Homo sapiens: one gene and its partner. The protein of the gene in region 1 purifies or fractionates together with the protein of each later gene. This does not show direct contact. Each region holds a gene or a part of one and is shown in the gene's direction. Other genes may lie near its edges.

Evidence for each region.
Region 2: the proteins of KATNB1 (region 1) and ASPM purify together in Homo sapiens (tandem affinity purification; 2 studies listed by IntAct, with this or other methods). This does not show direct contact.

What each region holds. Positions count from the first base shown.
Region 1 is NC_000016.10:57,745,479-57,752,769, forward strand, and holds part of KATNB1 (katanin p80 WD40 repeat-containing subunit B1), read left to right. Parts: intron 1-5,348; coding exon 5,349-5,449; intron 5,450-5,782; coding exon 5,783-5,824; intron 5,825-6,162; coding exon 6,163-6,246; intron 6,247-6,461; coding exon 6,462-6,577; intron 6,578-7,051; coding exon 7,052-7,123; intron 7,124-7,291.
Region 2 is NC_000001.11:197,083,615-197,087,948, reverse strand, and holds the end of ASPM (abnormal spindle-like microcephaly-associated protein), read left to right. Parts: intron 1-976; coding exon 977-1,146; intron 1,147-3,522; coding exon 3,523-3,625; 3' UTR 3,626-3,822; downstream 3,823-4,334. UniProt on the Homo sapiens protein: Involved in mitotic spindle regulation and coordination of mitotic processes.

The sequences.
Region 1 (7,291 bases):
CCTGAACCCGGGAGGTGGGGGTTGTGGTGAGCCAAGATCGCACCATTGCACTATAGCCTGGGCAACAAGAGCGAAACTCCATCTCAAAAAAAAAAAAAAAAGTTAACACATTAGTTATTCTCTTCCTACTGTAAAGGATGAGAATTTAGCTCTCTCATGGCACCACTCCCAGCCCCATGGCTCGTGTTTCTCCTCCCACCCTCCCAGTAGCACCATTTCAATAGGTGGTGTTTATAATGTAAGGACGCATAAGTGTCATTTACCACTGACTATTTCTTTTTAATAACTTGGTTTCCCTGGAGTTAATAATAGTTCCTTTTTTTTTTTAATCTGTGTGTTTTCTATGTCCATATTACTCATTCATCCCCAAATTCTCTGCCAGAAGAGTAAAGCTCCTCCTGTTTCTTTGAAACCCATCCCATAATCCAGGCGCCTTTTCTCAGAGCCTCTCCTCTGGTCCTAGTGACCTGCAGCCCAGCTGTCATCCTGGGCCTCTGTGTCTCTTCTCTGGGGAATTCTCTCCATCTGTTGTTCCTGGTCCCACGCCGCAACCTTTCTTGGTTTTCTCCCTCTTTTTGATGGAGCACATTCTTTTGTAGCTTTCTGAGAAAATGTGCTGGGAAGGCATAGTTTTGGAGAACTTCCATGGCTGAAAATGACTTTCTGCTACCCCCATCATTTGCTTTTGTGTTTGTTTTATGAGTTTGAGTATAGAGTTCTATGTTGGCAATAAAATATCGCCCTCAGAATTTGGAAGGTGCAGCTTTTCTGCCTTTTAGGTTCTAGGTTGCTATTGGGAGGGGCCGGTGTTGTTCTGATCCCAGATCCTTCACAGGGGACTGGCTTCATTCCATGTTCTGTCTCTTCCTTCCTCTCTCTCTCTCTTTTCTTTCCTCTCTCTCTCTGTCTCTGCAGGCTTTTAGGGTCTTTGTCCCAGTGTTCTGGTGTGGTGAGCCTTGGGGTGGGTCTGCTTCCACCCTGTGCTAGGTCGTCACTGGTTTCATGCGGTTGTGGTCTGGAAACTCATGCCCTCAGTTCTGGGCTGAGCGGAGAGTCTCGCCCACTGCTCCTGTGCTGTGCCTCGGTGCCTTAGCAGGTGGTGCCAGCTCTACGGATTTTTCAAGAGAGGCTGGAAATCTGGAAATTCATGTGCCTTGGTGCCTTAGCAGGTGGTGCCAGCTCTACGGATTTTTCAAGAGAGGCTGGAAATCTGGAAATTCATGTGCCTTGGTGCCTTAGCAGGTGGTGCCAGCTCTACGGATTTTTCAAGAGAGGCTGGAAATCTGGAAATTCATGTGGAATCCACCCATTTAAAAATGTTGACAGCTCATTCAACATTTGTTTTAGAACACCATGCAGGCCAGCACTGTGAGGTCCAAATAAGACCCGTTTGCCTGATGCTTTTCTTTTCTTTTCTTTTTTTGAGACAGTGTCACTCTGTCACCCAGGCTGGAGTGCAGTGGTGTAATCTCAGCTCACTGCAACCTCTGTCTCCCAGGTTTAAGCGATTCTCCTGCCTCAGCCTCCTGAGTAGCTGAGACTACAGGCACGGACCACCATGTCCCGCTAATTTTTGTATTTTTAGTAGAGACGGGGTTTCTCCATGTTGGCCAGGCTGGTCTTGAACTCCTGACCTCAGGTGATCCGCCCACTTCAGCCTCCCAAAGTGCTGGGATTACAGGAATAAGCCACCATGCCTGGCCTGCCTGATGCTTTTTGATAGCCCTTGTTGGATCATCCCGCGTGCCAGGCAGGAGGCCACCTACCTGAAGCCCTGGAGAGGAAGCAGCAACGTGGATTTTGCCGAGGCTGCTTTTTCCAGAAGAGAGCCCCTCTGGCCTGGCTGAGACTTCAAGATTCTTCTGGGCCTCTCCTTGGTTCATGCTCTATGTTGGCGGCAGGGCAGCAGCCATGAGCCACACATGCACAGTGGCAAGGTTCCCTTTGCTCAGGAACAGTGGGCTCTCTGTGTAGGTGGTACTCAATAAAGATGCACGCAGCCTCTTCAGTGATGCTTGCCTACTCAGTGATGGTCAGTTTAAGAACAAAAGAGCCCCAGGACCTCTTTGATAACAAACAGGACTGCAGGCTTTGCGTCTCGGCACGTGATCGCACTGCCTGGCCACACCAGGGCATGCTGTGCTTGGTGTCGCTGAACTCAAGCGGGCCAGGGAGGAGTGAGTCCAGGATGGCTGGGCTCTCATGGAGAAGATGGGAAGGCTCAGGCAGAAGGTGGGCAGCTCCCTGGACCTGAATCCCAGCGCGTGGGCACCAGCCATTCAGTATTCACCGAAGAACAAGAGACAGAAGGGAGAAGCCGAGGGCGCCGTGCCCCCTGTCCAGGCTTTCTCATCCACAATTGTTTTGCTCACAGGGGAAATGTGAGGAATTCCTTGAGGTGGCTGAGAAATGAAAACTGAAGATTGCTGGATTCCTGGGCCCTGGACGGCCAGGGCTGGCTGCTCCACAAGGAACTCATTACGAACTCACGGCCCAGACTCCATCCTCAGAGAACCCGATTCAGTACTGGGGTGGGCCCAGGATCTGGATTTTAATAAGCTTCCAGGTGATTCCGATGGACAGCCAGGTTGACAGATGGGCAAACAGAGGCCCAGGGAGAGCACCGAGCTTAGGAAAACCCCAGTAGCTGCAGGTAGCAGAGCCTGGGACTTGAATCCCGGTGTCAGGACTCCCATCCCAGTGTTGTCTGTTCTGCCATTGGATGGAAGAGAAACTTGCCATCAGCACAGCAGGTAGAGCTAAGACCTCCGGCCCCCCTCCACACCCCCTCGCCAGAGTGCAGGTGACAGTGACAGACAGGCAAATTGAGGCCCCAGGTGTGGAAAGGTTCCAAAGAGAGCTGCTCTGCGGGCATGGTGGCTCACACCTGTAATCTCAGCACTTTGGGAGGCCAAGGCAGGAAGATCACTTGAGGCCATGAGTTTAAGACTAACCTGGGCAACAAAAGGAGACCCCATCTCTATTTTTTTAAAAAAAAAAAAAAAAAGGAGAGAGAGAGAGCTGCCTCATATCGGTTGCCTTGAAAGGCCACCCATCACTGGAGGGTTCAGATGTAGGCTGAGGAGGTGCTCAGCTGGGAGGCGTTGGGGGTTCCTGTGTGGGGCAGACAGACCCCGGAAGCCCCTCCACTCTGCAGTTCCTAGATCCCATGATTGAATGTAGGCATCAGAGGCCTTCGTGGGACAGAAGAGCAAGGGCAGGAGTCAAGCCGGAAGAATGTGGTCCTGCCTGCTTTCCACAGCGCAGCCAGAGGGCAAGGGTAGCTCAGCGCAGGGGATCCCACGGGATCTCACAGGAGGGCGGCCGGTGCTTCATGCAGCCAGCCCACACAGGGTGGGACTCCGCCACATCCTCTCTGGGCAGGGCAGGATTTTGGAAGCCTTGCTGTGGGATCCAAGCTGAGTGGGCTGGGAGCGGGTGTGGACTGGAGCAAGAGCCAGCGTGGCCTCCTTGGCCAGGAGGCAATGCCCAGCCCCCAGCAGCACCTGATAGCTACACGGAGCAAGGAGTGACAGCTGCAGAGATTCTGGTGCAGGTGAATTGGATATGCATTCGACAGACTCCAGAGGGATGTGAAAGTATCCAGACCCAGCTCCAGCGCCAGACAGGGCCAGCTGCAGAGGGGCACTGAGGCCTGGGGAGGAGGAGAGAAGGCCCAGCTTGCGGGACAGCCAAGAGCAGAAGGCAGGCCTTGTGCAGGAAGAAATGTGAATGGGACTAATTAAGACTGGCATTTATTGAGCACTTACCATGTGCAGAGCCCGTGCTAAGCACTTTATGTATGTTTACTCCATTCTGTGACCCAACATGAGGCCCAAAGACAGTAAGTGATTGGCCAGGGTCACACCACCAGTGAGGAGCGGAGCCAAGGCTGATCCCAGTATTGTCTGATGCCAGAGCCCACATCCTGACTTTGGGGGTAGAGAAGATCATACAGTAGAGTTCATTTAATTCACCCAGTGCTTGGATCTTGACTCTGCAGTAAAGTGTTATATATGGAATCTTGAATACCTCCTCTGACAGAGAGCTCACTACCTCACAAGGTGACCTATTGCACCTTGGCTCAAAACTAAGAATGGCTGGACTCCCACATTTCCTGACCCTGGCACTTGGGATGGTCAGTTTCATTCAGATAGTGAATTATGAATCTTTCCAAAAGCAGGAAACATGAGACAAATCTGAGTGGTACTGGAGGACACCCTGAAACACACAAGGTTTGCCTCCAGGCTGGGCCGCTCCTGGCCATGGAGATGCCTGCAAAACCTTCAAGGAAAGGATAGGAGATGTGGTTCCTAGGGCAGTGGGAGGCGATCAGGCCCCACCCCAGGAGTTCTTTGGTCCTCGCGTGTCCTCCCTGTGTCCTCTCAGTTCTCACTGCTCCTCAGTGTGTCCTCACAGCCACCCTCAAGATCCCTTGGACAGAGGTCACCCAAGAAGACTGGTGTGTGCACCAGGGCCACCCCAGCCATGCCCTCCACTTGCCCTTCTTAGGGCCTTTGCCCATCACCTCCATCTACCTAACAGCATCCCTCATCCTCCACCCACTGACATCTACTCAAATACCACCTCCTCCATAAAGCCTTCCTGGATTTCTCTTTCCAACCAAGCAGCTTCTCTCCCAGCTTGAACCTCTCCTGGTCTGTCTCTCTCCTTGCACTGTCTTGGGTGGGGTTCAGTGCCCTGCAAACCATAAGCTCCACACCCATGGGGCCTGAACTGAGTGTGGTGGTTCCCTGGTTCTGCTTCCGCTGGAGCACAGTCTGTGGGGAGAGTGTGGTACAATTTCTGCAGACTTGAGGTAACATAGGGCTGTCACCTCTCAAGAGAAATGTGGGAAAATTAGTTGTTGGCAGGACGCAGTGGCTCACACCTGTAATACCAGCGCTTTGGGAGGCCAAGGCGGGTGGATCACTTGAGGTCAGGAGGCCAGCCCAGCCAACGTGGTGAAAACCTATCTCTACCAAAAATATAAAAAAATTAGCCGGGTGTGGTGGCACATGCTTGTAATCCCAGCTACCTGGGAGGCTGAGGCAGGAGAATTGCTTGAACCCGGGAGGCAGAGGTTGCAGTGAGCCGAGATCACGCCATTGCATTCCAGCCTGGGCGACAGAGCAAGACTCCTTTTCAAAAAAAAGGAAGAAAAGAAAATTCGTTGTTAGGGTGGTGGGACCCTTGATTGTTTCCTACTGTTTTAAAAATGTGTGTTATTGTTCTATTTTTCTGTGCAGCTAATCCAAAAGCGCACACACAAATGCCCACAGCAGCCCTTCCTCTGCCAGCCTTCTCATTTGCCTCTTAGCCACTGTCTCTGCTTTCCTTCTTGTTAGTTCTTCGCACACTCATGGGACACAAAGCCAACATCTGCAGCCTGGATTTCCACCCGTACGGCGAGTTTGTAGCCTCTGGTTCCCAGGACACAAACATCAAGGTGAGAGGCCGGTCCGTGCCCCGTGTCTCCTGCTGGGCCTGTGGCAGGACCAGCCCGGCCCGGCCCTCAGTGCTGGATGCCTGCTGAGGGGACCTCTTCCCTTTCTGCAGCCACATCCACACCATCCTAGGGAAAGCGGGTGGCAGGCATCTATCTGCCAGATGCTTCTGCTCAGAATGCCAGCTTTAGTGAGCAGTTTCTGTCCTTGTCTCCGTGGGGAGTAACGACCTAGAGAAGGCTGGGCCCCACCGTCTGCTCACGACTGCACACCTTCCTCCAGTCGTGGCTCTGACCTCTCCTGACTCTGCCCCTCTGCTTCTCTCTCCCCCACAGCTCTGGGACATCAGGAGGAAAGGCTGTGTCTTCCGATACAGGGTAAGGATGCGCTCTGTCGGTGACTCCATGAGCACCTTGCGGGCATTGAGTGTGGTGTGGTGCCCAGACCCCAGCAGGGGGTGGAGGGGACGGCTGTCCCACATGGGTGATAACATAAAACATAGACCTGGAGCTGAGCAGGAGCGCCATGGGCGGCCCACCTGGATCCCCTGGCTCTGCATGAATCCCCTAGAGCCACGTTCATCAAACTGCTCCAAGCAGAACCAGGCGGGTAACCAGTGTTGTTAGATGGAAGGGGTCCCATAGGAGTGAGGAGGCAGGGAGAGGTCTGTTGGGCCCAGGATCCCAGGGTGAGCTCATGCCGTGTCCTCCCTCAGGGGCACAGCCAGGCCGTGCGGTGTCTCCGGTTCAGCCCCGATGGGAAGTGGTTGGCGTCGGCCGCAGATGACCACACCGTGAAGGTAGCTCCCGGCCTGACCTGGGCCCAGGGGCTGGGGGCTGGGGTCTGCTGATCACAGCAGGCTGAGTCCTCACCTCCCTCCTGATCGGGCTCACATGTCCCAAGCCTATCCCGAGTGGAAGGTAGCTTGTGGATAAAGAGCTTGGCCTGGATTAGAGGGAGGGTGGGCAGCCAAGATGCCTGGTCACCCTGACCTCCTCCCTGCCCTGCCTCCAGCTCTGGGATCTCACTGCCGGCAAGATGATGTCTGAGTTCCCTGGTCACACGGGGCCTGTCAACGTGGTCGAGTTTCACCCCAACGAGTACCTCCTGGCCTCCGGCAGCTCTGACAGGTGAGGAGGAGGAGCGAGGCGAGTTGCTTGTGACTGCTGTCCTTCACCGCCTTGTCCTCTGTGCGTGTCTCTACTGCCGGTCTGTCGCTGTCTGGGGTGTCATACGTCTGATGATCCTGTGTGGACTGAATTGGATTTCAGCCGAGCCAGGACTGGACCCTGGTCCATCTCCCCTGGCTCTGGTTCCCTGGCCCCAGTGTCCCAGGTCTGTGGCTTCATGGGCAGGTTGGGACCCAAGGCATCTAGTGGGACCCCATAGGGCAGGGAGGCTCGTGGCTGTTGGGGCCAACCCTGGGGCCAGGGCCATCGGGCCGAGCCTCCCCCTTGCAAAGTCAGGGCCAGCTCTGCCCCAGATGTTGCTCCTGGTGGCCCTGCCCTGGGGGAGAGGTTTCTAGAGAAAAGCTGGCTTCCCAGGGACATGTGGAGGCCAGGATGAGGGATAGGCTTCGCAGCACAGCTTGGCTGCCTTTGCAGGACAATCCGCTTCTGGGACCTGGAGAAGTTCCAGGTGGTGAGCTGCATCGAAGGGGAGCCTGGGCCCGTCAGGTACGCAGGCTGTGGGGTGGGCGGCCCAGCGCTCCTCCCGGCAGTGGGGCGTGGCTGTGGGTGGGCCTTTCCCATCTCCGCTGCTGCGCCCTCCCTGCCCTGGGCCCTCTGGATTCCTCGGGGTGGGGACCAGGCTGGGTGCCACAGGACCCACGGCCATCTCTCGCC
Region 2 (4,334 bases), on another chromosome or scaffold:
GTAACCATAATTGTATTTCAAGCTTTTCTACGATGAGACCTCTGAGTCATTCTTTTTAAGTGTCATAATTAACATGGGGAAACCATAGGCCATAATTGGACTGTGGCCTTTATCCTGGTAAGTGGGAACCGCTGCAGGGTAAAGCAAGGGAATAATATTTTCCAATTTAAATTTTAACAACACTCTGGCTTCTGATTGAAGAATGAATTTGGGAGAGCATGTGTGGATATAGTGAGACCATCAAAGAAGGTGGCAAGTGTTGATATGTAGTGATCTAGGCAAGAGATTGTGCTTGTCTTAGGATTGTGTCGCTGAGAGGTAAGTAGAAGACTTTGGAAACTGCAGAGGTAAACTTTTCAAGACTTGGTAACTGGATATGATAGGTGTGTTGACTATAATTGCTATGTTGACTATAATAATTCCTTCTTATATTCAGTGTGGAGTTAAGTATGCAACTTTTGAATATTTATCTTCCTTATAATTGCCTTGCAAATTAGCTCGTAATTTAAATCAATCTACCTGCCAAACTTGGTGAGGTTTCTTTGATTATTCAAAGCTTAAAAGTTTACTGCAGGCTGGGCACGGTGGCTCACGCCTGTAATCCCAGCACTTTGGGAGGCTGAGGTAGGCAGATCACGAGGTCAGGAGATTGAGACCATCCTGGCTCACACGGTGAAACTCCATCTCTACTAAAAATACAAAAAAAATTAGCCGGGTGTGGTGGCGGGTGCCTGTAATCCCAGCTACTTGGGAGACTGAGGCAGGAGAATGGCGTGAACCCGGGAGGCAGAGATTGCATTGAGCTAAGATCGCACCACTGCACTTCAGCCTGGGCGACAGAGCAAGAGAGACCATCTCAAAAAAGAAAAAAAAAAGGTTTACTGCATAGTTTTTATTATATTTGATTTTGCTAGTCTAAAAGAGATAAAATTTTAATTCTTATTACTTTTTAGTAACTGTGCATTTTATTTTGTAGGATGTACGAAGTAGGTCCAAAGTTGTTGACCGTATTTACAGTCTCTACAAACTTACAGCTCATAAACATAAAATGAATACTGAAAGAATACTTTACAAGCAAAAGAAGAATTCTTCTATAAGCATTCCTTTTATCCCAGAAACACCTGTAAGGACCAGAATAGTTTCAAGGTAAGCAATTAAATATAGTCCATAAATTTGTGTCACTGTTCATTCATTCATTTAACAAATATTTATTGAGCACTTACCATAAACAAGATGTGCTTTTCAGTGGAGAAACAACATATGAATAAGAATGGAATGTTTGGTAAATTTAAAAGAAGCAGTCTTGGTAAATAAAGAAATAACATTATACTGTAGCTTTGGACATTTAATAGTTATTCAACAAACTTCTTATATTAAATAGTTAAGAGCTAAGGCTAAGAAGCTTGTTATAAGTTTTGTCATTTTATTTTATTTATTTTATTTTGCATGAAAGACAAACTACACTGTTTAAGAAGTGCCAAAAGTCCTTCTTAGCCAAAATATCAACCTCCAGTCCTCCCATAATCACCCTGATTCTTGAAATTTCTCCTTCTGGAAATTTAGATTGACATTTTCTGATTTTATTGGCAAAAAGATTTAATTTATTTTGGTGAACCGTCATGGCATTTAATTAGTGTTTTTACTCCCTTCCTTCTTTCTCCCTCCTCCTTTTTTTCTTCCCCCTTCTCCCTCTCTCCCTCCCTTCCTTCCTTCTTTCCTTCTTGAGACTTAGCAATTCTCTATACTAGGTACAAATCCTACATTATTGACAACACACTATTTCTTGACCTGAGTGGTTACACAGCCATTAGCTTTATAATTATACTCATAATTATAAACTGTATAATGTAGTTATAAATTGGTTTTATGCATGCATATTTCACAGCATAATGTAAAGTTCATTTGCTTGAAATATATTAATGGGACCATTTCTACATGTTTTTTAAGGACTTGGTAGAATTTAATATTCATTATGTTTTAAAAGCTCATACTAACATATGAATGGATTCTCTTAAAATTTTGATGTAGGTCAGGCTTTTGAGGTAAAATTTACTGACAGTATAAATGCATCCTTTAAATGTATGCAATTCAATTCGTTTTGACAAATGTATACAGTTAGGAAACTACCACCACTGAGATACAAAATATTTCTGTAACACAAAGTTTCCTTATGCCCCTTTGTTGTCAGTTCTCTTTCTTTATTCCCTGGATTTTGGGAACTACTGATCTGATTTTTGTACCTTTAGTTTTGCCATTTCTATACTGTCACATATATGGAATCATATAGTAGATAGCTTTTTGTGACTGGATTCTTTTCCTTAGCATAATGCTTTTGAAATTCGTTCATGTTTATGCATGGATTTGAATTTCATTCCTTTCTATCACTTAGTACTATTCCATTGTATGGTCGTACCACACTTTGTTCACTCACCAATTGATATATCTTTGGATTTTTAGCAGGACAAAATAAGATGATGGAAATGCATATAGTAGGGAATTATGTGAGAAGATGCATGAACTCCCTCGGTTTGATACTATTTTCTCAATAAGTTTGAGATTATAAACTCAACAACTCAGAAGCAGCTCAGAGGGTATGGAGGGGAAGTTTGAAAAGAGGAAAGGACCAAGATAGTCATCTTGGAGAGAAAGGGAGCATGCTGGCAATTTCAAATGCTCATTTTAGATTTGTAATTATTGGCAAAAAATAAAATCAGCTTGGTTGTGTAAACATTTTTAGTAATATGCAGCTGTATAGGAATGGAGAAGGCAGATATTTTGACTCAATTTGAAATCCAAGTAGAATTCTTCAGACTAGTTTGGTAGGAGAGAGAGACAACAGTTAATGGCATTTGCAAAGGTTTTGATAATACTGATGCACCTGAGCTAGATACACAGGAAAGTAAGGACAGCATTCTGGTGGATGTTGGGTATGTGTTGAGGCCAAATGAAGTGGAGATCTCAGTGGGGTAGAAGAACTGGTTCAATGACTGTGTTAGAGCATATGACATGGATGAATCAGAAATGGTGGATGGAGAATGGAAGTCTCAAGATTTCAGTGGTCGCACACTTTCTGATGATGACAAAGTCTAGTATGTGATCATATTAAAAAGGATTGGTTGAGGTAGAATTGAAGGAAAGTGGGGCAAAAACGGACTAGGTTGTTGGCTTTTTGGCCACATAGATGTTGCTGTTGCTGAGAACGGTGACAGTAGGTAAGAGGAGAACAAGAACCAGGTTTACAAGGAATAAGACACTGAGAGTTTGGCTGATGACCAAAAGGCAGTGGTCAAGCTAAATAGCATAAGCTTCAAAGAAGCCAGCATTATTTTTTAGAAAGGATGGAGAGAAATAGTCTGGAACTAGTGATGGGCAATAATATGAAGTTCTCCCACCTCTTTGAGCAGTTTGTAAGGGAAATGATGTGTTCAGGAGTAGCTACAATTTAGTTAAGAGAAAAAAGGTGAAGGTAACTCTAAAGAGAAGAACTTTATTAATGCCAGACTTTTTTTTTTTTTTTAACAGACTTAAGCCAGATTGGGTTTTGAGAAGAGATAACATGGAAGAAATCACAAATCCCCTGCAAGCTATTCAAATGGTGATGGATACGCTTGGCATTCCTTATTAGTAAATGTAAACATTTTCAGTATGTATAGTGTAAAGAAATATTAAAGCCAATCATGAGTACGTAAAGTGATTTTTGCTCTCCGTGTACAACTTTTAAAATCTGACTTTGTTTTAAAAAAACATAAACTGTTCATTACATTCTTCATTTTTATCATTTATAGTTTTATGCATGTAATAAACTAATATGTCATAAGATGATTATATTATTCCTGTCTATTATCTTAAAGTATTATAGTAGTTTCAATGTAATCTTATTACTAAAAGGAAATAATAGCTGATTACACCTTTTTTATAGGTAAGTTGAGGAATTTTCATAAAACAAATGTTAGAAATTGAAGTTCTGTCTACTCACTAAGAAGTGAGACTAGGATAAAATAATCTCACAAATTCATATCAATGGCATCCTTATCTATATCCTTGACTGGCTAAAGCATCCAGATAAGCAAGTGAGCCCTTCTAGGCTCACAAAAAGAATACACCCACCACTGTATTTACTAAAAATTCTTACCATTGAACTGATGGGGGTTATAATTTGAAGTGGAAGGAACATGCTATTGCTTATAATAGAATCTTGTTGTGTAGTTATACACCACAGACCTGAAAATGATTCAGTATTGAAATGTGATTTTTTTTCTACTCTTTGAGTCACTATTACTAGTATCTGTGGTTTCAGGGCCACAGATGTCTAATTCTTATGGCTGAAATCTGAA